7 linked regions of the Homo sapiens genome follow. The protein of the gene in region 1 purifies or fractionates together with the protein of each later gene. This does not show direct contact. Each region holds a gene or a part of one and is shown in the gene's direction. Other genes may lie near its edges.

Region 1 (3,500 bases):
AAATTCTTCTAACATGGAAACATTTTATTTTTTCTGAAATTAAGGCTACCTCTACTAAAATTTCTTGAAAAGCTTTAGAATTTTTTATATTGACACATATTGTTGAACAACATAGTTTCAAACCATCTGAATCATATTTATGTGACTTGATTTTCTGCCCAGTTCTCAGCTTCAGATTTTGTAGTAAAACAAGAAATACTTTGAGAGTTTGAAAGCATTTACTTCCTTTAAATAGCAGGAAAACAATGAGAATTAACAGTAGCGGCAGTAACATCTAATTTGGGCCAAAATCTGTAATAGGTGTTTTATGTTAATTATCTCACTTGATTTTCATAAAATTCTTTTATCTCCATTTCATAAATGAGAAAACTGAAGCTGAGAGACTTGAAGCACACAATACAGCTTGTGTTATGGACATATCGGTGGAGTTGGGACCATTCCATGCTTAAGCCTAACTCCTGTTTCCAATGTCATGTGCCTCAAGTACACTTGACCTTTGGATTATCTCTCTTGTCCTGCCACCATGCTCACAAGCTTTTGTCACAACGTTTTAAAGAAAAATTACAATGAAATAATGTCAATAGAATAAAAATAATTACTACTTTTTAAATTTTCCTTAGTGAAAATACTTTTTCAAACAAATATTTGTCTCAGCTCTTTCTTTAGCTCAGTTGTTTCTGATGGTCATGATGAATGGTCTCACTGGTGATCTCTTTCTAGGGGATGAACTGACACTGTGTGAAACTGAAATTGCTGATGGGGAAGACATCTTTGTGTGGAATGGGGTGGAGGTAAAAAAAATTACTGAAGAAATATTCGTGATAATTTTGGATGTTTTAAAAGTCATCGTAATGGCCGGGCATGGTGGCTCATGCCTGTAATCCCAGCACTTTGGGAGGGCGAGGCAGGCAGATCACCTGAGGTCAGGAATTCAAGACCAGCCTGGCCATCATAGTGAAGCCCCATCTCTATTAAAAATACAAAAATTAGCTAGGCATGGTAGCGTATGCCTGTAATCCCAGTGACTTGGGAGGCTGAGGCAGGCGAATCGCTTGAACCCGGAAAGTGGAGGTTGCTGTGAGCTGAGATTACACCACTGCACTCCAGCCTGGGTGACAGGGCAAGACTCCATCTCAAAAAAAAAGTCATTGTAATGAAATTTTATTCAGCCTATGTGAGGGCAATTAGATATTAGAAAACTACTGAAATGCTTGATAAATGTTAGGGACAATCAGTGCTAGTTGTACGCCAAGGAGACATTTCTTGAGCGCCTCCGTTATACCAGGTTGTGCGTCAGATGCTAGATCAAAGGCCAGTCAGTTGATCTGTGTCCTTTTAGGCCCTCGTCGTGTGAAGAACTGCACCATACGTGCTGGAGTAGGGGGTCTGTGCATAGTGCCTGTGGGAATTTAGAAGAGTGAGAATCTATACTGAGTTGGGGAGTGGGGGTGGTTTGGAGGTAGAGAGTGAATTTTCTATCTCTAGAAGGCGGCCAGGAGCACTTCAGCCACTCTGTGAACTGACCTTGGCCAATCTGGCTTCATCACCACCCATGATAACTCATAAATGTCTATCTCCAGTCTATCATAGATTTCTCCTAAAAAAATAAAAGATAAGAAAGTTTCAAAAGAAAAATCTGAAGTTGTTCCTCTGATGCTTAACAGACATTTGTGAAAATTTTATTTTACTTGGAAAAAATGAGGGTTGTTCTCTAAGAGTAATCTTTTACCATGTTATGTTGACGGTGTTGGCAAATATCAGCTGTACTAATGGTTGTCTTGGTATGATTGCAGGTTGGTGGAGTCCACATTCAAACTGGTATTGACTGCGAACCTCTACTTTTAAATGTTCTTCATCTAGACACAAGCAGTGATGGAGAAAAGTGTTGTCAGGTGATAGAATCTCCACATGTCTTTCCAGCTAATGCAGAAGTGGGCACTGTCCTCACAGCCTTAGCAATCCCAGCAGGTGTCATCTTCATCAACAGTGCTGGATGTCCAGGTGGGGAGGGTTGGACGGCCATCCCCAAGGAAGACATGAGGAAGACGTTCAGGGAGCAAGGGCTCAGAAATGGAAGCTCAATTTTAATTCAGGATTCTCATGATGATAACAGGTAACTCGCTAACAAGAGAAAAAGGATTTCTAAAAGTCATTTTAATTACAGTACCACCCAGCAGAACTCTAAAGCTTTATTTTAGTGACAAGAGTTGAATGTTTCTTTATTTCTAGACATTATGTTCTAAATATTGCATACAGGAATGTTTTAGGTTATGTAACTTAGAGAAAAACATGATTTTTTGTAAAGGGACTTTTTGGTAAATGTGGTGAGAAAATAATATAAGTATCCCTGATTTTCTAGACTGTATAGAGTATCAATTAGTTGGCTGTAATGCAAAAGTTATCAAGTGAATTCTGATTAGTGCCAGTTATAAAACCGAAGGAAATTCTCACAGAGAAAACTGAAAATTTTCCTGAAGAAGGTATTAACATTATGGCTAAATTGTTTCTGGATATTTTGTTTCAGGAGACCCATAAGACAACTCATTGTTTCCTTATAATCCGTTCTGTGACTCTTGAGAACCCAGTTGCCCAAATAGAGCAGTTACGTGGCGAATTACCCCCATGAATCCTGTGGTCACATTTAAAGCTGCATCTCTTTGTCATCTATGTCTGTGACAGTACATTGCTGTAGTCAATGTGTCATACACTGTAACTGCAATATTTCCATATATTGAAGACTTCAAGCTCCCTGTTTTCTCAGTGCTACAGATTTACTTAGATTGCAGGATGTCTGTATCATTATTTATAGTGGCTTTGATGCAGAGAAGCAGAGCACTTGTGGACCGTTTCTTTCGTAGTACACTTACCACTATTACTCTTTTGGACAGGGGTTTTGCAGACATTCCCTACCTTGTTTATAAGAACTGTATTTCCTTTATAAAAGGCAGTATGCATTTATTGGGACTGGGGAAATACAAAAGTGAAGACAGAAGGGACCCAAAACAGTATCCGTCTTCTCAGCATGCAGTGTTAATCACTGTTAGCATTTGGGTGCCTTTCTTTTTAAACCTAATAATGATTATTTTGTAGATAAGTAGTTGTATCCTGCTTTCCATTACCCCTGCCCAACCTTGAGATTTGTAGACTCTTTATAAACTGCCTTGAATGGCTACATAGTAATCTATGTGACATTATAGTTTGCCTAACTGTGCTCCTAGGCAAGTCAGTAGGCTGTAGTGGGACCTTGGGCAAGGTATTTCGTCTTTCTCTGCTCAGTCTTCTTGTCTGTCAAATAGGGATAATAACTAGTGCCAACTTCATAGACTTGAGAGGATTGAAAGAGTTGAGTGCTTACAAAGTACACACAGTAAGTGCTAAATGTTTTAGTTAATATATTACGGTCATTGTCATAATTATCATACAGTTTTTCACTATTTTAAAGTAGTCTTCATGGAGCATCTTGTGCTTCATACTTTGTTTTATTTGGGATTGCTAGCTTA
Region 2 (2,908 bases), on another chromosome or scaffold:
TTTATCACGGTGTCTGAGCACAGAGCAGAATATATCCCTTGAAGGCAGTAGCAACCAGGCTTTCCACTAGCTCCATGCTGATGGTCTTCTCTCCAGAAGACACACCTTGAGCTAGGTGGTAACTCCTGATGACTGGAGCAGTCACCCACCCTGAGGGCCTCTAGCTGATGTGTTTCCAGTCTCATGGCTACTTCTGTTTTCTTTTAGCGACCCCCCACCGCCAGGCTGATCAGAAGCTGATGACTCGTGGACAAATTTGGCTGTCCCCAGTTTTGCCCCAAGTTGCTGTCTCCCCTTCCCTCACCTCCTCCCTCCCTGTTTGATTTCTTCATGCTTTTGCCCTTCTCAAGTTGAAGTTGCATACATCCAATATCGTATCTTAATGATGCTATGATAATTGCTTGTGTGTGTAGCTTCTTGTAGCTTAGAAAGCGCTTTATGCCCATGATGTCATTTCAGGCTCAACCAAAGAGGATCAAACAGGAATTCCATCTTGGCTTCCCTAAGACAGATTGGCTTTCTAATGAGTTTAAGTGGGCAGAAGTGTAGGGTTCAGTGTGTCCTGACTCCCTTGAGGCTTATAATGGGCCAAGTTGAAGACTGTTGATGATCCCTGGTGGGTAAATTGCAGACATCAAATGCTAGGGATTGGCATAGGCTAGTGTTTAGCTTGTCTATTTGCCATATCTATTTTTTTTAAATTTCCATACACTTGTAAAAGTAGTTAGTTGCTTTTGATTGAGTTATATAGCAGTTTTTCATTTGGTCTTCCACTCACCTTTCACTATATTTGAGTGTTCCCTTACAGGTATGTTGGCATGTGTTGGAAAATTTACACAATTAGGTTTAAATTCAGTAGGATGTGATTTTAGGATGCTACTGATCAAAGTGATATCTGTGTCTGTTGGAATCTTGATAGCTGATTAATTTGCCCTCAATTCTGCTCCCTGAACTTCACACATAAATCTTCCCAAGTGGGTTTTAGGGTGTATAGATCCCAGCAGGATTAAGGAGGTGGAAAAGCAGCTAACATTTCTTGAGGCTCTACCACATAGCAGGCACTGTCACAGAGTAATGGCATTAATCCCCATAATAATCCTGTGAAGGTGATATTCTCATCCCATCTTAGACATGAGGATATTGGAACTCAGAGAGGTGGCTATTGCATTGCGCAGAACGCTACAGAGCCCATGCTCTTCCCAGAGCAGCACCCACAAAAGCAAGCATTGATTTTGTGCTCAGTGTGTGCCAAGCACTGTGCAGAGGGTACACAGTTCCTGCCAGGTTAACACCCTCCCTTCAGGCCTCCCAAAGGCATAGGCTTGCAAAGAGCAGAAGGTGTGAAATCACACTCTTCCTCTGGGCATCCTGGATCCCTGAATTATCCCCCCCCCCATGAAGTACTTCAAGGGCCAAGCTGCCCCTTTCCCTCCTCTCCGCCCATGAAAATGCCTCCAAACTGAGATGCTTTCAGCTGAGAACAGATTTGACTCACAGACATTACCAAAGAGGAGCTTGTGAATCCAGGAAAAGCTCCAGGGGGCTAGCTGATCTGAGCAGAGAGCTTTCAGTGACCCATTTTCCTGTCTAGACTCTGCCTTAAGCTAGTGGCAACTGCTGGGGCCCCAGGTACTTGGGACATGGAAACTCGTTGGATGGCTGGGCAGATGTAAGCCTGTCCATGCAGTCAGCCGATCCTCTGCTCAGGTTCAGCTGGACTCTGCCATCTGTGGGCCCAGCATCACTCTGTAAGTTCCTTGAAAGGAAGAACAACCTTAGAGTATTTCTGATACAAAATGAGGGCCTCTGCTCTTGATTTAATTATAAAATGTCTACGTCTTTCTCCAGTTTCTGAGCCCTATGCACATTGGCTTGTGGGCTTGTTCTTCCTGCCAAATGATCAGAGAGGAACATTCCATTTATTTGTAGTGGATTTCCTCTGGAGGGCATGTACCCACACTAAATACCAACTGCTCTTCCTCAGCTGTAGTCCCCAACATCAGACTTGGCACGTGGTGGACACTAACACACAGGCACTCAATGAATGAGTGAAGGAAATAAAAGTCACCCCGTTGGTGAGAGGTGCTATCCCTGAGTCTCAGTGCAGGACCAGTGGATGAAAGGCAAGGTAAAGAGGCCCAAGATAGGCTGGCTTCCCCCGTTCAAGGTATAGTCTGCCTTTAAGGGAGTTTTAGAACCAACATGCAAGACATTGAAAGAAATCTTGCAAGAGCCATTATTGACTTAGATCCAAAACAGCCTCTCTCATGTCTAAAAAGGCACAGAATTTTGCAGATCTGAGGAAGAGGGATGCATTACCTTTTTGCTTCTTTTCAATTGCTTAGTGTTTCTAATCATACTTAATCCACACTAATGTGCGCAATTATAATAAATGGTAAGATATCACATGTGTCAGTGTTAAAGTTTTCTTTTGAAGTGTAATAACTTGGTGTATTCAGCTGTGTGATTTCTTTATTCCTATTGCCTGAAGCCATTCTCTGTACAAAAGTAAACAAGTACTTAATAGCAAGCTCTAGACACTGGGCATGCACAGGAACTGTGGAATTCTAGACACATCAAATCTTAATGAAGAATATTGTATTGTGGCGGCAGAGAGCGGGGGCGGTCCATCCTTCTCATGATTACCACTGCAGACAGACAGCCACCTAGTCATTAGTGCCCACTTCCAGTGACCAGGAGCTCAGTTCCTTACAAGCCCCTGCTGTCTGTGGTTTTAGAAGATGCATTCTTCAGTTGAGTTAAAGTCCATTTCTGTATGTCACCCACTGGTGGTCTTTAATCCCTCCGCTAGATGCCAGCTCTTAAAATAGATGAAAATACTTCTCAGATTCTGTCTTGGTCAACTCTTCTCACATTTAAACACCCCTGGTCCCTCTAACTCTTCCTT
Region 3 (3,500 bases), about 120 Mb from region 1:
AAAGTAAAGCACAGCACTCTAGGGTTTGCTGATTGTTGAGAAATTGCATGATGGCTGACTGTTGTCAGTGCCTATATTTTGATTATCTTGAGTAAACCTATCCCTAGGAATGCAGTAAAAAGTATATGTTTTGGGTGGAAGGCAAAATATTGAACTCTGTCCCTATAATGTCATGACTTCACACTTCAGGAAGTCTACTCAATAGACTTTTAAAATGTTGTGTTTGCTTTTGCATCCCCTTCCCAACCAACCAAACCACCAGCCCACCCCCATTCATCCATTCATTTGCCCATCCGTCTACTCCCCTTACCCACATATCTATCTACCCTACCTCCTACCTAAAAAAGAAGTCATTGGGTTTTGCAAGTATAAATTCTCTGTACTGAGAATCCTACTAACCACATTGATTATGTGAATGAACATAGTGCATGTTCTGGTTTTTTTGTTAGAATACTTAAAAGATTGAAGTTGATTGTCCTAATGGTATGGTTATGGATGTATTAAAGTAGCTGTTTAGTTTTTAATAACTCATTACAGATATATAAGTACAAAACAATGCTGTATGTTTCTGAGTATAGTATTTTAAAAAAGTGAGATTGTTTAACATTTTTAAGCTCTTTTTACACTTGTAAATAAGAAATAAATTTACCCAGTGATCAGTACCGTATCGACATATTGAAAGAAACAGATTGGGTGTCCCTTTTTTGAATTGCTTCATACCAGAAGTGTTGCAGGTTTTGAGTTTTTCTGGATTTTGGAGTATTTGCATTATATACTGGTTCAACATCCTTAATCCAAAAATCTGAAATTCTGAGCATTTCCTTTGAACATCATGTTGGTGCTCAAAAAGTTTTTGGATCTTGGAGCATTTTGGATTTTCAGACTTGGGATGCTCATCATGTATAGGAAAAACCTTGTGTTTTGGAGGACTCTGCCTTCTTCACCTTAGTTTTACTTGCTAGTAACTTTTATAGATCTTAATAGCATGCCTTTATCTATCTATCTCTGGCTTTATTTTCCTTCAGTCTGTAATTTTTAATGGCAACCAAACAGTTTTGAAAAAAGCCATATCATTCTGTTTCTATAAATAGGTGTGTGTACACACACACACACACTAAATTGTAGATATGATGGTTCATTATCCCCAAACATTTTAGTATATTTCTAAAATCAAGAACATATTACAATTATCAAAATCATGAAATTAACCTTGATCCAGTGTTATCTAGTTATAGAACTGATTCTAATTTTACCGGTTGTTTCACTAATGTCCCTTATAACAAAAGGAAAACAAAATACCTTCTTCCCCCTTATCCAGGATCCAATCAAGGATTGCATGTTTCATTTACTTATTGTGTTGCTTCAGTCTGTTACATACTCAATGTTTTTTGTCTTTCATGAATGAATGTGACATTTTTGAAGAGTACAGCCATTTATTTTGTAGCATATCCTTCAGCTTGGGTTTGTTTAATATTTCTGCTTGAGTAGGTTCAGATTATGTACTTTTGGCAGTGATGCCACAGAATTGATATTGTATCATTTTTAGTGCATTGTATCAGTAGACACATGATAGAATTTGTCCTGTGTGTGAATTTTGAGCTTTTGGTTGAAGTTGTGTCTGCCAGGTTTTTTCACTATAAAGTTATTATGTTTTCCTTTATATTTAATAAGAATCTAATGAGGAGACACTTTCAGACTATCCTGTTTCTCTTTTAAGTTTCAGTCACTAGTTTTTAGCATCCATTGTGATTCTTCCCTAAAACAGTTATTACTGTGGTAGTTGCTAAATGGAGTTTTGCAATTTCTGTCATTCCTTCTATGTTTTTAAGACTTGTTTTACTATAAGCAAGAGTTTTCCCTTCTCCCACATTCATTTATTCTTTTAGTAATATCTATATGAACTCCTGATTTCTCATTTTGTGGTCTATATCTTTAATATCACTGTAATATCATAATATCAGTAATACCACTCATCATTAATTTTAATCCCACATTTTTTTTTTTTTCAGATTTGACCAGTGGGAGTTATTCAAATGGCTCTTAGGTTTTTTTTTTTGATGCAGCCACATCTTTTTTTTTGCCTACTTCTGTACTTCCCGGCACAGCAAGGTGTTTCAGGCTGATCTTGTACTTTCTCTTTTCTGGCCCTGGAATCAGCCCTTTTTTTCTCCTTTTCTTTCTTCAAGACACCCTTGTCTTATTCCTGTTAGTGGAGAACGTTACTAAGAAACCAAGCTTTGTGCTCATTGCTGTTGGGGTATCACTGAGTCTAGGCCTTCTCAGTGATTAGAGCTAGGGGTGTGTGTGTGTTTATACATCTATATCTAATTCTCTACATAAATTAAAACCATGAATTTTTACAGACGTCTCCAGTTATAGAAGGTTCACTCTAGTTTTCTGCCCTTCCATATTGTAATGCCCTTCTCTGACAGTGAGAAACCTGGCTCCTATTATCTATAATATGTTTATGTTTTTGCTTAATCCTGGAATATGTATATGATAGTTTCAGAATTGTTAATCCACACCACTGTGAAAAATAGACCCAAAACTAGAATTCAATATTTGCTTATATTTTATCTTCAGCCTGAAGGCTTATAAGATTCAAAATACTATGCTCACAAGTTGCTTGTGTTAGTCCCTTTCCTCACCTTAGTGTGCTTATGTTTGAAAAAAGTACAATTAGTTTAATTTGTTTTTGTTGTACTTTGTTTTGCCCCAACCTCCCCTTCTTTTAAGGTGTTATTTTTTAGTATGTAAAACACTAACATTTAGATTCTTAAAGTCAGAACTGTATAAAACATGTGCTCATTGTTATTTCCCTTCCATTTATTCTGCTCTGTTCCCTCCCTGTCTCTTCCACAGTGTTCCCAACCCCTTTCCTCTGAGACAGCCAATCTCAATTGTTTCTGGTTTGTAAGATACCACCTGAATTTAGTACAGATATTATTTTTGTATATGTACATTTAAGGTTAAATGACACAGAAGTTGTTATTTGAATTTACTATGAAGATGATCATACTATGTCTTTCTTTAGCCAAAACCTATTGATGTACAAGTCATTACACACCACATGCAGCGATATGCAGTTTGGTTTGGAGGATCAATGCTGGCTTCCACGGTGAGTGTGATGAAGCTTACTTTTATTTTATTTTATCATTATTATTTTATTTATTTTTGAGGTGGACTTTCGCTCTTGTCACCCAGGCTGGAGTGCAATGGCATGATCTTGGCTCACTGCAACCTCCACCTCCTGGGTTAAAGTGATTCTCCTGCCTCAGCCTCCCAAGTAGCTGGGACTACAGGCATGCGTCACCACACCTGGCTAATTTTGCATTTTTAGCAGAGACTGGGTTTCATCATGTTGGCTAGGTTACTCTTGAACTCCTGACCTTGGGATCTGCCCACCTTGGCCTCCCAAAGCAAAGTGTTGGGTTTACAGGTGTGAGCCACTGCTCCTGGCCTTTATTATTATTATTATTTTTTATTGAGATGAGGTCTTA
Region 4 (3,394 bases), on another chromosome or scaffold:
GAAATCAAAGTTTTGATGTGTTAGTGTTTTTTCCTAATCACATTAAAGTAACTATAGCAGTGAATACACCACACTTTGGAAAAAATTGGGTTAGGTTAATTTAGTTTTCTAGGAGAGAATAATCAGGGTCTGAGCTAGAGTAGTGGCAGGAGAGATAGCACTAAATAAAGACAGGCATTGTGAAAGGCCTGGCCACTTGATGTGAGGAGGAAAGACAAGGATGACTGGTTTTTAGAGTAGGAGAATTAGCCGGGTGCAGTGGCTCATGCCTGTAATCCCTGCACTTTAGGAGGCTGAGGTGAGAGGATTTCTTGAATCCAGGAGTTCGAGACCAGCCTGGCAATAAAGTGAGAACCTGTCTCTACAAAATATAAAAACTTAGCCAAACATGGTGGTGCGTGCCTGCAGTCCTATCTACTTGGAGGGCCGAAGCCAGAGGATCCTTTGAGCCCAGGAGTCTGAGGCTGCAGCAAGCTGTGATCACACTGCTGCACTCCATCCTGGGTGGCAGAATGAGACCCCCCCCAAAAAAAGAGTAGGAAAGTGGTGGGGTTAAAGATGTAGGGAGATCATGTTGTCCTGGTTTGGGGAGCTGGGGGAAGGGAAAGAAGATACGGCTGACAATCTGGCAGGTATCTGGGTGAAAACAAAATTCTAGGGCGTGAGGCAGAGAGGTTGACATAAGAGAGTTGGGAATCCATATGGGGTACAGGTAGTTTATGCCATGGAGGTAAATTAGAACCATGAAGGACAATTGCAAATACAAAAAAAAGAGGCCAGGCACGGTGGCTCACGCCTGTAATCCCAGCACTTTGGGAGGCCGAGGTGGGCGGATCACGAGGTCAGGAGATCAAGACCATCCTGGCTGACACGTTGAAACCCCGTCTCTACTAAAAATACAAAAAATTAGCTGGGCGTGGTTGCGGGCACCTGTAGTCCCAACTACTTGGGAGGCTGAGGCAGGAGAATGGCGTGAACCCGGGAGGCGGAGCTTGTAGTGAGCTGAGATTGTGCCACGGCATTCCAGCCTGGGTGACAGAGCAAGACTCTGTCTCAAAAAAAAATTAAACAATGAGGAAAACGTTATGTAAGAGGAGGAACCAAATGGAACTGATTGGAGGGAAAGAAGACGGTTGAGTAGTTCTTTAAAAAGTTCCGGGTTGGATGCTTTCTAGTGGTTTTTCAACAGAGAGGCTAAGAAGGAAGATAACTGAAAATGGGACATGCATTGATACTTTAGTAATTTGAGGGTACATTTTGAGTGTTAAGAAGTGAAGAGGAGGAGTCATTTTCAGGGGCAAAAGAGTGTATTGGTAGGAAGATTATATAGGCAATATAATTTACTTTAGAGCAGGGCTTTCCAACAGAACTTTTGGTAATGATGTCTAGTACATTAGCCACATGTGGCAGTCAAGCACTCAAAACATGGCTAGTGTGGCTGAGGGGCTAAAATTTAATTGTATTTCATTGTAGTTCATTTAAATTTGGCTACCTGTGGCTAGTGGCTATTATATTGGACAATGCATTTCTAAATATTCAGATCCTGGGCAGAAGTTGGCTTTGACATGAAGAAAGACTTCTTAGAAAGGAAGGAAGTAGACCGGGCATGGTGGCTCATGCCTGTAATCCCAACACTTTGGGAAGCCGAGGCAGGTGGATCACAAGGTCAAGAGATCAAGACCATCCTGGCCAACGTGGTGAAAACCTGTCTCTACTAAAAATACAAAAATTAGCTGGACATGGTGGCACATGCCTGTAGTCCCAACTACTCGAGAGGCTGAGGCAGGAGAGAAAAAAAAGAAGGAAATAAGAGGGAGATTGGGAGAAAAGTAAGGTGTTATAGCTCTGATCTGTGGTATCTCCTGTTTTCCTTGCGGTATGACTAGTGTGAGCCAAGGATAGAGACCAACAAACTGGGGTACCAAAGTGGACAATGAAGTACTATGTAATTAGTGCTAATGCTAAATTCATTCCTTTGTTTAAGGCTTAATATCCTTGCAGAAGCCATCCTGTGTTACTTGAGCCTGGACTAGTATTGGGGTGAAGTCAAGCATCAGAGTAAAACATTTGTCCCCTTAATGTTACCCCCTCTTAATTTCTAAGAACCACAGGCCCATTTTGCCCTTCCTTGTTACCATCATTGAGATAAGGAATAAGATGTAGTAACCCCAAGTTATCTGATAGGTACAACTGACCTATTCTGTTTGGCAGCTTTATCTTAGACCTATTCTGTTTGGCAGCTTTATCTTAGCCCCAACCAAATCTCTTCCTTTCACATGGTGTTGGTTGAATACTATCCAACTCCATGGGGTTGGTTTGTGTTTTTTTTTTTTTTTTTTTTTGAGACGGAGTCTTGCTCTGTTGCCCAGGCTGGAGTGCGGTGGTGTGATCTTGGCTCACTGCAAGCTCCGCCTCCTGGGTTTAAGTGATCCTCCTGCCTCAGCCTCCTGAATAGCTGGGATTACAGGCACGTGCAACCAAGCCCGGCTAATTTTTGTGTTTTTAGTAGAGACTAGGTTTCAACATGTTAGGCTGATCTCAAACTCCTGACCTCGTGATCTGCCCGCCTCGGCCTTCCAAAGTGCTGGGGTTACAGACTTGAGCCACTGCACCTGGCCATGGGGTTGTTTCTTAATTAGATATAGCTGAAAAGAACGCTAGACCAAATAGGTTCTCTGCCTTGCCTTTTCGTTTGTTTTGTTTTAGCTATTATCAGGGAACCAAAAACTTTAAGGAGCTAGTACTGGTCTTAATTTTTAATAACTAGAGATAGCAGAGTTAGAAACTAAGTTCAAAGTGAGAGAACAGCTGCATTTGTCTTTCTGACCTCATGCAATTCCTAGGAAACTCTGTGTTCTGTGATTTAGTCAGGCAATAAAATGCTCTCACTCCTTCTCTGTCTCTTTATTTCTTCCCTAAATGGAAAAGAATTGACCAGGCTGCTTTGAGGGATAAAGATCCTGATAACGCGGCTGGGTGCGGTGGCTCATGCCTGTAATCCCAGCACTTTGGGAGGCGGGCAGATCACCTGAGGTCAGGAGTTCAAGACCAGCCTGGCCAATATGGTGAAACCCCATCTCTACTAAAAAAAAAAAATGCAAAAATTACCTGGGCGTGGTGGTGGGTGCCTGTAATCCCAGCTACTCAGGAGGCTGAGGCGAGAGAATCGCTTGAACCTGGGAGGTGGAGGTTGCAGTGAACCAAAATCGTACCATTGCACTCCAACCTGGGCAACAAGAGTGAAACTCAAAAAAAAAAAAAAAAAAAAAGGATCCTGATAACATCCTTCTTTCCCAAGTGAGAATCACACAAACTAACTTGGTTATAGGTATTATCTAAATTCAGGCTGTTCACGAGATCTATATGTAATGTAACATCACAGGAAATTTGAGAG
Region 5 (3,500 bases), on another chromosome or scaffold:
AGAATATGGTCACAAAATATAGAAGACACGAATAGTAGTCCAAAAAAGTTATCTAGGTAATCGCTTAAACTACTGATCTTTACATCATGAAATATTTATAGGTTTATTTCTGGAAGGAGTTAATTTTTATTCTACCTAATAAAAGACAACCACATGTCACTGGTTTTTAATTTTAAAAAAGATCTTCAGTTTTCTTCCATTAATCTTGATTTGTGTAAGTTGAGTCAGATGTGTGGTCCACAGAATATTTTGGACCATTGAAGTAGTCCAGGGTTTACAAAATGTGATACTCTCTGACTGAAACACTAGATTACCCAAAGATTTTGTTGTTGTTGTTATTTAAATCAATAGCCACTTTAAAATCAAAGTAATATTTTCAGCATTATACTTAGTCATTTGCTATGGTCTTGCTTCCCCTGATAATTCACTGCGTGTTCCTAGCCAGATCAATTGCGTTTCTTGAACTTCAATTTCTCCACTTTGCAAGTGGGATAAGAATGATTAATACTACAGAACTTGATATTCATACCATAGGGTCTAGAATAAGTGTTATAGATCTGAGCATATGGAAAATGCTTTAATCTCTTGGGAAAAATGACCGTAGGTCAGACCCTGAGGATAGTTGTCATTTATGAAACATTTGTAATAAAGAAAGTTAATCGTATTCACGTTAGTATCTGTGAAAAAGGCAGTTCCAACAATTGTTATAATCCAAAGATTTTTTTCAGTTGCAAATCTAGTAAGATATTGAAAGAAGAATTTTAAAGTGGACCACATGTATTAGTTGTGCCCTATGCTGCCTCAGATATTAAAATTTTTATATTTTTTACTGCACTCATTTTACTCAACTACTTATAATGCAGTAACAAAGAAATAAATAATAATGCTTCTTTGATTTGTAATCTCCCCACTAGAAATTAGAAATTAGAATATCATGAAATCTTATTCTCTTGACTTTCTGACTCTAAGAACATGTTCAGTCAATGTTAATTTGAACACTTTCTCCTCTTTAATATGGCATCTTCAGAATTGCAAAGCGAGTTAAATCCAGTGATGTATGTCATATAGACTGATCAGCCAATGTCAGAAAAGACCCCATTGCACTGGGACTGGGTTAGTGGTAAAACACTTTTCTAGGAGAAAATGGCTCCGTGTCCTATTACTGCAATCTAGCCACTTAGAAAGCAGGCATTACCTTTAAGTTAGTTTACTGTGTATATACTCTCAGTTCCAGCAATAAATTAATGAGAAATTCAATTTTATAAAATAAATAATAACAGCTAGTCTGCCAGATAGGGGTTAGTCTTCCCTTACATAGCCTGATAAAAATGAGAATGTTTTGATCTTGCCCCTGTGCTACAAGGCAGGAAGTATAGGATTTGCAGCTGCCACTTATTTTAATAAAGAGAATGAGTGCATACTGTCTTATTTCAACAGTGGATTTCATATATTCTCCAACATGCCCTTTCTGTTCCTTAATTGGCTAGTGACAAGCTTTCATTTCTTCCTGTTCCCTTGGTCTTTATTTACCACTGCACCCAAAGCCCACATTACAAGTAATACTGTCTAAAAATTGCCAGATATGCTACATTATTCTTAGTATTGGAAGCAGCAAATCAATCATTAAGTTCAAAGTTCCTCATGGTCAAGTGAACATTAGCATTGTCAGCTGCGTAAAACTTGATTAATCATTTATTTCTTTAGAATGGGTGCATGTTCTACAACTTCAGATAAAACAATTAGACCATGACAAAGCTTATTTCATCATTATTGGATTATCCTTATTACTCAAGCAGAGAAATGAGTAGCCCTCCAGATACATCATTACTACAGATAGATCCACTGATTCAGCTGTGCCCTGGTGGGTGCTTGGCCATCTGTAGGTATGAACATAGCCTTAGGAAAGAAAAAATAAAATTACTTGGTCTTTTCAAGTTGTTAAAATTTAGTCTAAAGTAAAATAGCTGGAGGTTTTTCCTAACTACTAAGTTCTTTCTCCCACTGAAGAACAAAATAGTCTTTTGTTAAATGCAGTCTTCTACAAAGGACAGCATAACTGGCATGAATATTTTAACAAAGAACGCAATTTTAAATCCCTTAAACAGTGATCAATGCACACTCAAAACTAGTATGAAAATCACTAACCTCAAACACTTCAAAGCACTTGGTTCAGAAGAGTTGCTCATTTCCCTCCTAATATCCCCTTTGTACAGGTTCTACTCTACAGAATTCACACTTTCAACATCTAGAATTTTGTTACCTTCTGAATAATGTATGAAGAATTTTTCTTTTAGGTAAGGCATTGTCTAAGATCCTGAAATATAAATTATTCTTTAAATCCATAAGGATAATTCACCATGGGAGGACTACAACTATTAATATAAATTGGAAAACAATCTATCCACATACTAATCCAAAAATATTATTTTTTTTATTCAGGCACTGCTGTCAGATTTACCTCCTGAATTAGAGGAAATGGATTTCAATCATGCCTCACTGGAGCCTGATGATACCTCATTCAGTGTATCTTCTTTGTCAGAGAAAAATGTCTCAGAAAGTTTGTGATTTCAGTTGGAGGGAATATATGATACAGTCTTTTGGCTTCGTAACAGGTGTGCATTTCAAGATAACTGCATTCTGTTGCCCTGGTATTCTTTAGTTGGGAAAACACATTGTTGAAACGGACGTATTCTGTGAAGAATGTACAAGATATAATGGCTACAGTGCAACAAAAATGTAGGTGAAATTTAAAAGCATTGTTTGAGAGAGTATTTTTTTAACTGATGGAACTCTGGAAAAAAATTATATTTAAGTTTCAGCAGTTTAACCCTGAAATTCATTATGTCTAATTTCTAACCAGAGACAAAATAACTAAAGACATTTCAGCATTGCTTATCAAGTTGCTACAGCTTGATTAGTCTTGTTTTTGTAGCCATTACATCTTCTTTCTTCTTCTCTCCTTTTCCTATCATCCACTTACACTTTTTCTCAGGAAAGTGGACTGAACATTTAAAACAAAACTTTAAAAAATTATTTAACTCATTATTTAATGAGTTCTCTGATTTAGTTTTTAACCCCTATGAAAATTTGACTTAAACTAATGACTGAAAATTAAATGATTACAGGTATGTAATTGTAAATTGCTGGTGTTCTTCTATTATCTAACCCAAATATTTGTGTGGGGGTGGGGAAGCACAATGGAAAGGTAATTTAACCAACATAACGTCAAATAAATTACGAAGTGTACAGAAACAAAATGTTGTCAAAATTAGTCTTGATGGGGATTCTTCATTACTACAAATGACAAGTATTGATACGATTGACATTCCAGTAGTAAATTTGTATACCTGGGTTAGATGAAGTGTTACACAAATATTTTAAATTTATCACCATCTTTATAATTCTTTTTTAGTTCTTACATGTTATGAAACAGGAAGTCAAGGTAAGCTGCTGAGATTTTTTAAAAATTTAGTCATTCAGCTTTGCCACAAAATTTACCT
Region 6 (3,500 bases), on another chromosome or scaffold:
GGGAGGGGCTGGAGGGGCAGGGTCCAGGCGCCTAGGCTCGGGGCCTACCCTTGTTCGCACCGGGGCTTGCAGAAGGAAGAAGAGCTGCGGAAGGAGGAGGAGCGGAAGAAGGCCCTGGATGAGAGGCTCAGGTTCGAGCAGGAGCGGATGGAGCAGGAGCGGCAGGAGCAAGAGGAGCGCGAGCGGCGCTACCGGGAGCGGGAGCAGCAGATCGAGGAGCACAGGTGAGCCTGCCCGCCCGGAGCGCTCCAGGGGCCCCCGGGCGCACCCTGACGGGTGCTGGCTGCTTATCGTTCCAGGAGGAAACAGCAGACTTTAGAAGCGGAAGAGGCCAAGAGGCGGTTGAAGGAGCAGTCTATCTTTGTAAGTTCTTTGCCAAGGCTCCCGGTCTCTGGGTCAGGGAAGTGAGAATGGTCCCTGTGTTCCTGGGCCTTGTGGGGAGATCAGTGGCTCAGGGACAGTGGTGGCTGTTCTGGGGAGCTGCATGGGCACAGGGTGCCATGGAGCATGAGGCCTGGCACCTCATCACGTGGGGCTCTGGCCTCTGGCCGTGGAAAAAGACTACTTTGGAGAAGCTTGTGCTCTAGATTGGAAGAGAAACTCCATCTAGACCCAGACCCTCACTGACCAGGCTCCCCCTCCCCTGCCCTGGGGTTTCTCGGCGATTAGACACTGTTCTGCACTCTGAGGGGCCACAGGAGTGAGGCAGGCGGCATGGGTGAGCCTGGGCCAGTGCTGAGCATCTGCAGGCAGTGTGTACCATCTCCTTGGGAGCAGCATCTCCCTGGGAGCAGCCCCTTTGTTCCAGGGGTACTGTCTGAATCTCCACACATTGGGAATGGCCCGTAGGTCCTGTGGATTGGTCCCTGAGAATCACAGCAGAGTCACATCTCCATGCTTTGAATTTAGTATTTTGGAAATAGCTAATGTCATTCAGGACTGAGCATGGCTCAGTTCAGGAAGGGAGGTGGGTTGATACTCATCTGGATTGGGACTGTAATGGGCAGATGCATGGCTGTGGGGACTCAAACGGGCTCCGGAGTCACCCACAGGAGGCTGAGAGAGAGGAGGCAAGACAGTCCTGCAGGCAGCAGCATTAAGTCACTCCAGTCACATCTGCCCTTGGATGGGGTGGGGATGATGTGTGGCTGGTAAGCTCCATCCTCAGTCATTCATTCAACACACACCTGCCACCTGCCACATAAAGAACATGGTGGAGAACGAGCTGGGTAAGATCTTTTTTTCATAAGTTGATTCATGTATTTTTTTTTTTTTTTTTTGAGATGGAGTCTCACTCTGTCGCCCAGGGTAGAATGCAATGGCGTGATCTTGGCTCACTGCAACCTCCATCTCCCAGGTTCAAGCGATTCTCCCGCCTCAGCCTCCTGAGTAGCTGGGATTACAGGCGCACACCATCATGCCTAGCTAATTTTTGTGTTTTTGTAGAGACTGGGTTTCACCATGTTGGCCAGGATGGTCTTGAACTCCTGACCTCGGTTGATCTGCCCGCCTCGGCCTCCCAAAGTGCTGGGATTATAGACGTGAGCCACCGCGCCTGGCCACATGTATGTAACTGTGGCAAAATACATAAAATGTACCATTTCAGTCATTTTAAAATCTGCATTTCATTAAGCGGCATTAAATTCATTCACATTGTAGGATAACCACCACCACCATCCATTAAACACAAATTCTGCCCTTCCCCACTCGCCAGCTCCTGGCAACGACCATTCCACTTTCTGTCTCTATGAAGTTGACTACTCTGGAGACTGCCTATCAGTGGAATCGCACGGTGTTTGTCCTTTTGCGTGTGGCTTATTTCACTTAGCATGATGTCCTTAAGATTCATCCATGTTGTAGCATGCATCAGAATTTCCTTCTTTTTGAAGGCTGAATCATATTCCATTGTATGGATATACCACATTTTATTTATCCTTTCAGAGTGAGGTTTTTTAAAATTTTTTTATTTTTTAAATTTTTTTGAGACGGAATCTCGCTCTGTCGCCCAGGCCGGAGTGCAGTGGCGCCATCTCAGCTCACTGCCAGCTCCGCCTCCCAGGTTCACACCATTCTCCTGCCTCAGCCTCCAAGTAGCTGGGACTACAGGTGCCCGCCACCACGTCCGGCTAATTTTTTGTATTTTTAGTAGAGACGGGGTTTCACCATGTTAGCCAGGGTGGTCTCGATCTCCTGACCTCATGATCTGCCCACCTCAGCCACCCAAAGTGCTGGGATTACAGGCGTGAGCCACTGCACCCGGCCTGCCTCCCAGGTTTAAGTGATTTTCCTGCCTCAGCCTCCCAAGTAGCTGGGATTACAGGCGCCCACCACCACGCCTGGCTAATTTTTGTATTTTTAGTAGAGATGGGGTTTCACCATGTTGGCCAAGCTGATCTTGAACTCCTGACCTCAGGTGATCCACCCGCCGGCCTCACAAAGTGCCGGGATTACAGGCATGAGCCACCGCACCCAGCAGATAAAGTTTATTATTTATTTATTTATTTATTTATTTATTTATTTATTTATTTATTGTCTTTTTAGTAGAGATGGGGTTTCACCATGTTGGCCAGGATGGTCTCGATCTCTTAACCTCATGATCTGCCCTCCTCGGCCTCCCAAAGTGCTGGAATTACAGGTGTGAGCCACCTCACCCAGCCAAGTTTATTTATTTATTTATTTTTATTTTTTTGAGACAGAGTCTTGCTCTGTCGCCCAGGCTGGAGTGCAATGGCACAATCTCAGCTCACTGCAACCTCTGCCTCCTGGGTTCAAGCGATTCTCTTGCCTCAGCCTCCTGAGTAGCTGGGATTACAGGCGTGCACCACCATGCCCAGCTAATTTTTGTATTTTTAGTAGAGACAGGGTTTCACCGTGTTGGTCAGGCTGGTCTCGAACTCCTGACCTCGTGATCCACCTGTCTCGGCCTCCCAAAGTCCTGGAATTACAGGCGTGAGCCACCGCACCCTGCCTGATAAAGTTTATTTATTTATTTATTTATTTTTATTTATTTATCTTTTTTAAGATGAAGTCTCACTCTTGTCCCCCAGGCTAGAGTGCAATGGCGCCATCTCAGCTCACTGCAACCTCTGCCTCCTGGGTTCAAGCGATTCTCCTGCCTCAGCCTCCCAAGTAGCTGGGATTACAGGTGCACGGCTCCATGCCCGGCTAATGTTTGTATTTTTAGTAGAGACAGGGTTTCACCATGTTGGCCAGGCTGGTCTCAAACTCCTGACCTCAGGTGATCCTCCCACCTCGGCCTCCCAAAGTGCACTGCACCCAGCCCTGATAAAGTTTATTTTTTTGCTAACATTTCAAACATACACACATGCAGGTAGACAGAATAGTGTTGTGAACCCCCTGAGCTGATTTATTTTCACCAGTTATCAACATTTCAGGTAAAGTCTGAAGGAGCTTACCATTATTTTATAGTCCCATCTGGCCCTTCAAGTATAGTTCACGTGAGAGTGACAGTGGACATTCTAGCAGGTCAGTGTGGTACC
Region 7 (3,500 bases), on another chromosome or scaffold:
ATACAGAACCATTCTTAGTGTTTTTCTTTGAGATTGGTATAAACTCTTCTAAGAATATTAATTTTTTGTCCTGTGGTCAAATATTTAACCAGTTTGCCTTTTAATTTTGTATATAGTATATTATTACTTATCTATAGATTTTTTTTTTTTTGAGACAGTGTGTCACTCAGTCACCCAGGCTGGAGTGCAGTGGCACAATCTCGGCTCACTCTAGCCTCCTCCTCCAGGGTTCAAGTGATTCTCATGCCTCAGCCTCCCAAGTAGCTGGGATTACAGGCACATGCCACCACGCCTAGCTAATTTTTGTATTTTTAGTAGAGACAGGGTTTCTCCATATTGGCCAGGCTGGTCTTGAACTCCTGACCCAGGTAATCTGCCCGCCTCGGCCTTCCAAAGTGTTACAATTACAGGCGTGAGCCACCACACCCAGCCTGGATTTTTAAATTTGAGATTTCTTCTGGTGCTGTGATGTTTAGAAGGCCTTCACCATCCAGAGATTGGTTAAATACTCACTTTCATTTCCTTCTGATTTTTACCGTTTTACACTTTATATTTAATTCTTTAATTTGTATTGAACTTACTTTGAAGTACCAAACCAATATGTTTAATGCCTTTGTATATCTGAGTTCCAGATCTGTATTTCCAGCTACCTGTTAGGCTATGTGGATAGTCCCTGTACGCCATGCATCTGCGTACACCCAGATTCACTAAGGAGAAAGCTTGAGGTTGTACTTACCACTTTAATACTTTTCTCCACCCACATTTGATCAATCCCCAAGTTTGGCTGATTCTGCCCCAGGGGTGATAAGAGTTCTTTAATCAGTCTTCTAATTCAGATTCCCCTTTTAGTTTTTTGCCAGAGTCCTTGAGTCCTTGAGTAATCCTTAGAGTTGGCTTCAGTTTTTCCCTTGCAGAAAAGTTATCAGAGTTGTCATAAAAAAAAAAAGCACTGATTTTCAAAATATGGTTCCTTTAATTGCCTGTGTTAGAATTACCTGGCAGTGGTTAAAAAGGTAGAGTCTCAGGTCCCACCTAGACCTGCAGATCAGTGTGTCTGAGGGATGGGCCTGGGAACCTGAAGTTTATCAAGTACCTCAAGAGATTTATATACAAACTTAAGGGGAGACAATGCCTAAGTAAATTCAGTCTAGCTTTCTGACATGCTCTTCAAGACACCCACACCCCCACTCTGACAGCCTATTCTTTTAGGCTTATCTCCCACAACACGACCCACCCACCTGGCACTGTGACCCTACAATAATTCTCTGTTTCCTGGACCTGCCCAGTTCTTTCCTGCCTCTGTGCCTTTGCTCATGCAGTTACCACAGCCTCATGCTCCTCCCCTTCCCCACCCTCTTGTTGAAATCCTTTTCCTTAAGAGCCCAAATCAAATGCTACCTTTTTAAATTTTTTTAATAAAAAAAAGCCTTTTCTAATTTCTTCTACTTGAATCAGTGGCTGCCTCCCCAGTCTTTATACTTAACACTTGATTTTTGCTTCATTTCTTACCTTACTTAATGTTGTCACTATTTATAAATTATTGCTTCCTTGTAAGATTACAAGCCTTTTAGGTATGAGAACCTTTCCCTTCCTTTTCATTTTGTGGCCATTATGCACATATAAACAATTAAGAACTCATTTTATTTTATTATTTTGAGACACAGTTTCATTCTGTCCCAGGTTGGAGTGCAATGGCGCAATCTCAGCTCACTGCAACCCCCACCTCCTGGGTTCAGGTGATTCTCATGCCTCAGACCTCCGGAGTAGCTGGGACTACAGGCACGCGCCACCACGCCTGGCTAATTTTGTTTTTTTTTTGTATTATTAGTAGAGACAGGGTTTCACCATGTTGGCCAGGCTGGTCTAGAACTCCTGGCCTCAAGTGATCTGCCCACCTCAGCTTCCCAAAGTGCTGGGATTATAGGCATGAGCCACCGCACCTGGCCAAAGTACTCATTTAGTACATGAAATATATCTGATCTTGCAAACACACTTTTATATAATAATGTTTGGCTTTGTATCACACATAGAATAAAATTAAAATCCTTTAGCATTGTTATTAATCCGTATTTAATCTGACTACTACTCATCTCTGTGTCATCGCATGCTTCTCACTTACTTCCTAGCTGTATTATTCCTTCCTCAGGGCCTTTGCATTTGCTTTCCTCTACCTGGAAAACTCCCCCATCTATTGTCTTCACCTTGCTGGCTGCATATGTTCTCCCCATCATTCAGGTTTCAGTTCAAATGTCATTCACTCAATGAGGCCTTCCCTGATCACTGCCTAAAGAAGCTGTTCGTGTCCCTGTTCCTACCACAACTCCAGTTACTCTTTTTGTATTTCCTTCACACCACTAATCACAGTCTTTAATTGTCCGGCTTCTCCAGTGGAATGGAAATTTCATGAGAGTAGAGACCATGTCTGTCTTTTTTTTTTTTGAGATGGAGCCTCACTCTGTCACCCAGGGTGGAGTGGAATGGCACGATCTTGACTCACTGCAACCTCCAACTCCCAGGTTCAAGAGTCTCCTGCTTCAGCCTCCCAAGTAGCTGGGACTCCAGGCACCTGCCACCACACCCAGCTAAATTTTTTATTTTTGGTAGCGACAGGATTTCACCATGTTGGCCAGGATGGTCTGCATCTCTCGACCTCATTATCCGCCTGCCTTGGCCTCTCAAAGTGCTGGGATTACAGGCGTGAGCCATCGCGCTCGGCCTTGTCTGTCATTTTTAACATTATATCTTCAGCACTTGGAATACTGCCAAAGACTTGGTAAATGCTAAATAAATATTTGTTGAATGAATGAATAAGCCTTGAAGATGGACTTTTCATTTGGACAAGTCTTGTTTTGTTTTGCAATCCAAAGTGTTGTATTTTTTTTAACTGGACAACAGCTGAGGTCGGTCCATCTGGGTTCAAATCAGGTAGCAGTCTCTGAGGAGTTCGGAAGGTAGCAGGACAAAAGTTTGGATACTGTGACAACCAGGATTAAGTTCCATCTGAGTGCAAGTTTTCTAAGGTGTTTCCAGGATCCAGGCCACTATTTTCCTACCACTATAGCCATCTACTTCCCAGATTGTTACTCTGGATTATACTAGTCTATCAACTCCTATTACATTTTCAAAAGCCAGTGTGGCAAAACTAAAACCCAATTACTGGAATCCACAAACAACCAGAAGTTTTCTTCTGTTTTCATTCTCTAGGAGAAAAATTAGAAAGCTATCTAGAATCTTCAAGAAAAAATGAAATGATTTTCATTATACTTACTATTAACACATGCTCTGAAATGTGTTACTGTTTAGACACACTGTTTAGACAGTGTACTGATTAGAAAGATTTTCAGCAACAGCTTTAAACAAAAGGTTTCTTATTAACATCTAGTTGAACCAGACATTATAATGAATTAGTTCTAATTTCTATTTCTTTTCATTGGTTAGTCTTTTTTAATTCCATTTTTTTTCTTAATGCTGGCTTGAAGTTTTATTTAAAATAATGCTTT

Evidence for each region.
Region 2: the proteins of USP40 (region 1) and ZNF185 purify together in Homo sapiens (affinity purification with mass spectrometry, with the first as the bait; one large-scale study listed by BioGRID). This does not show direct contact.
Region 3: the proteins of USP40 (region 1) and ACTR3 purify together in Homo sapiens (affinity purification with mass spectrometry, with the first as the bait; one large-scale study listed by BioGRID). This does not show direct contact.
Region 4: the proteins of USP40 (region 1) and TPM3 purify together in Homo sapiens (affinity purification with mass spectrometry, with the first as the bait; one large-scale study listed by BioGRID). This does not show direct contact.
Region 5: the proteins of USP40 (region 1) and HDX purify together in Homo sapiens (affinity purification with mass spectrometry, with the first as the bait; one large-scale study listed by BioGRID). This does not show direct contact.
Region 6: the proteins of USP40 (region 1) and DBN1 purify together in Homo sapiens (affinity purification with mass spectrometry, with the first as the bait; one large-scale study listed by BioGRID). This does not show direct contact.
Region 7: the proteins of USP40 (region 1) and LIMA1 purify together in Homo sapiens (affinity purification with mass spectrometry, with the first as the bait; one large-scale study listed by BioGRID). This does not show direct contact.

Annotation. Positions count from the first base shown.
Region 1 is NC_000002.12:233,521,783-233,525,282, reverse strand, and holds part of USP40 (ubiquitin carboxyl-terminal hydrolase 40), read left to right. Parts: intron 1-720; coding exon 721-791; intron 792-1,793; coding exon 1,794-2,113; intron 2,114-3,500. UniProt on the Homo sapiens protein: May be catalytically inactive.
Region 2 is NC_000023.11:152,971,067-152,973,974, forward strand, and holds the end of ZNF185 (zinc finger protein 185), read left to right. Parts: intron 1-207; 3' UTR 208-2,408; downstream 2,409-2,908. UniProt on the Homo sapiens protein: May be involved in the regulation of cellular proliferation and/or differentiation.
Region 3 is NC_000002.12:113,952,589-113,956,088, forward strand, and holds part of ACTR3 (actin-related protein 3), read left to right. Parts: intron 1-3,034; coding exon 3,035-3,118; intron 3,119-3,500. UniProt on the Homo sapiens protein: ATP-binding component of the Arp2/3 complex, a multiprotein complex that mediates actin polymerization upon stimulation by nucleation-promoting factor (NPF).
Region 4 is NC_000001.11:154,161,313-154,164,706, reverse strand, and holds the end of TPM3 (tropomyosin alpha-3 chain), read left to right. Parts: 3' UTR 1-2,894; downstream 2,895-3,394. UniProt on the Homo sapiens protein: Binds to actin filaments in muscle and non-muscle cells. Plays a central role, in association with the troponin complex, in the calcium dependent regulation of vertebrate striated muscle contraction.
Region 5 is NC_000023.11:84,320,954-84,324,453, reverse strand, and holds part of HDX (highly divergent homeobox), read left to right. Parts: intron 1-2,439; coding exon 2,440-2,565; 3' UTR 2,566-3,500.
Region 6 is NC_000005.10:177,463,635-177,467,134, reverse strand, and holds part of DBN1 (drebrin), read left to right. Parts: intron 1-72; coding exon 73-224; intron 225-299; coding exon 300-363; intron 364-3,500. UniProt on the Homo sapiens protein: Actin cytoskeleton-organizing protein that plays a role in the formation of cell projections. Required for actin polymerization at immunological synapses (IS) and for the recruitment of the chemokine receptor CXCR4 to IS.
Region 7 is NC_000012.12:50,273,521-50,277,020, reverse strand, and holds part of LIMA1 (LIM domain and actin-binding protein 1), read left to right. Parts: intron 1-3,500. UniProt on the Homo sapiens protein: Actin-binding protein involved in actin cytoskeleton regulation and dynamics. Increases the number and size of actin stress fibers and inhibits membrane ruffling. Inhibits actin filament depolymerization.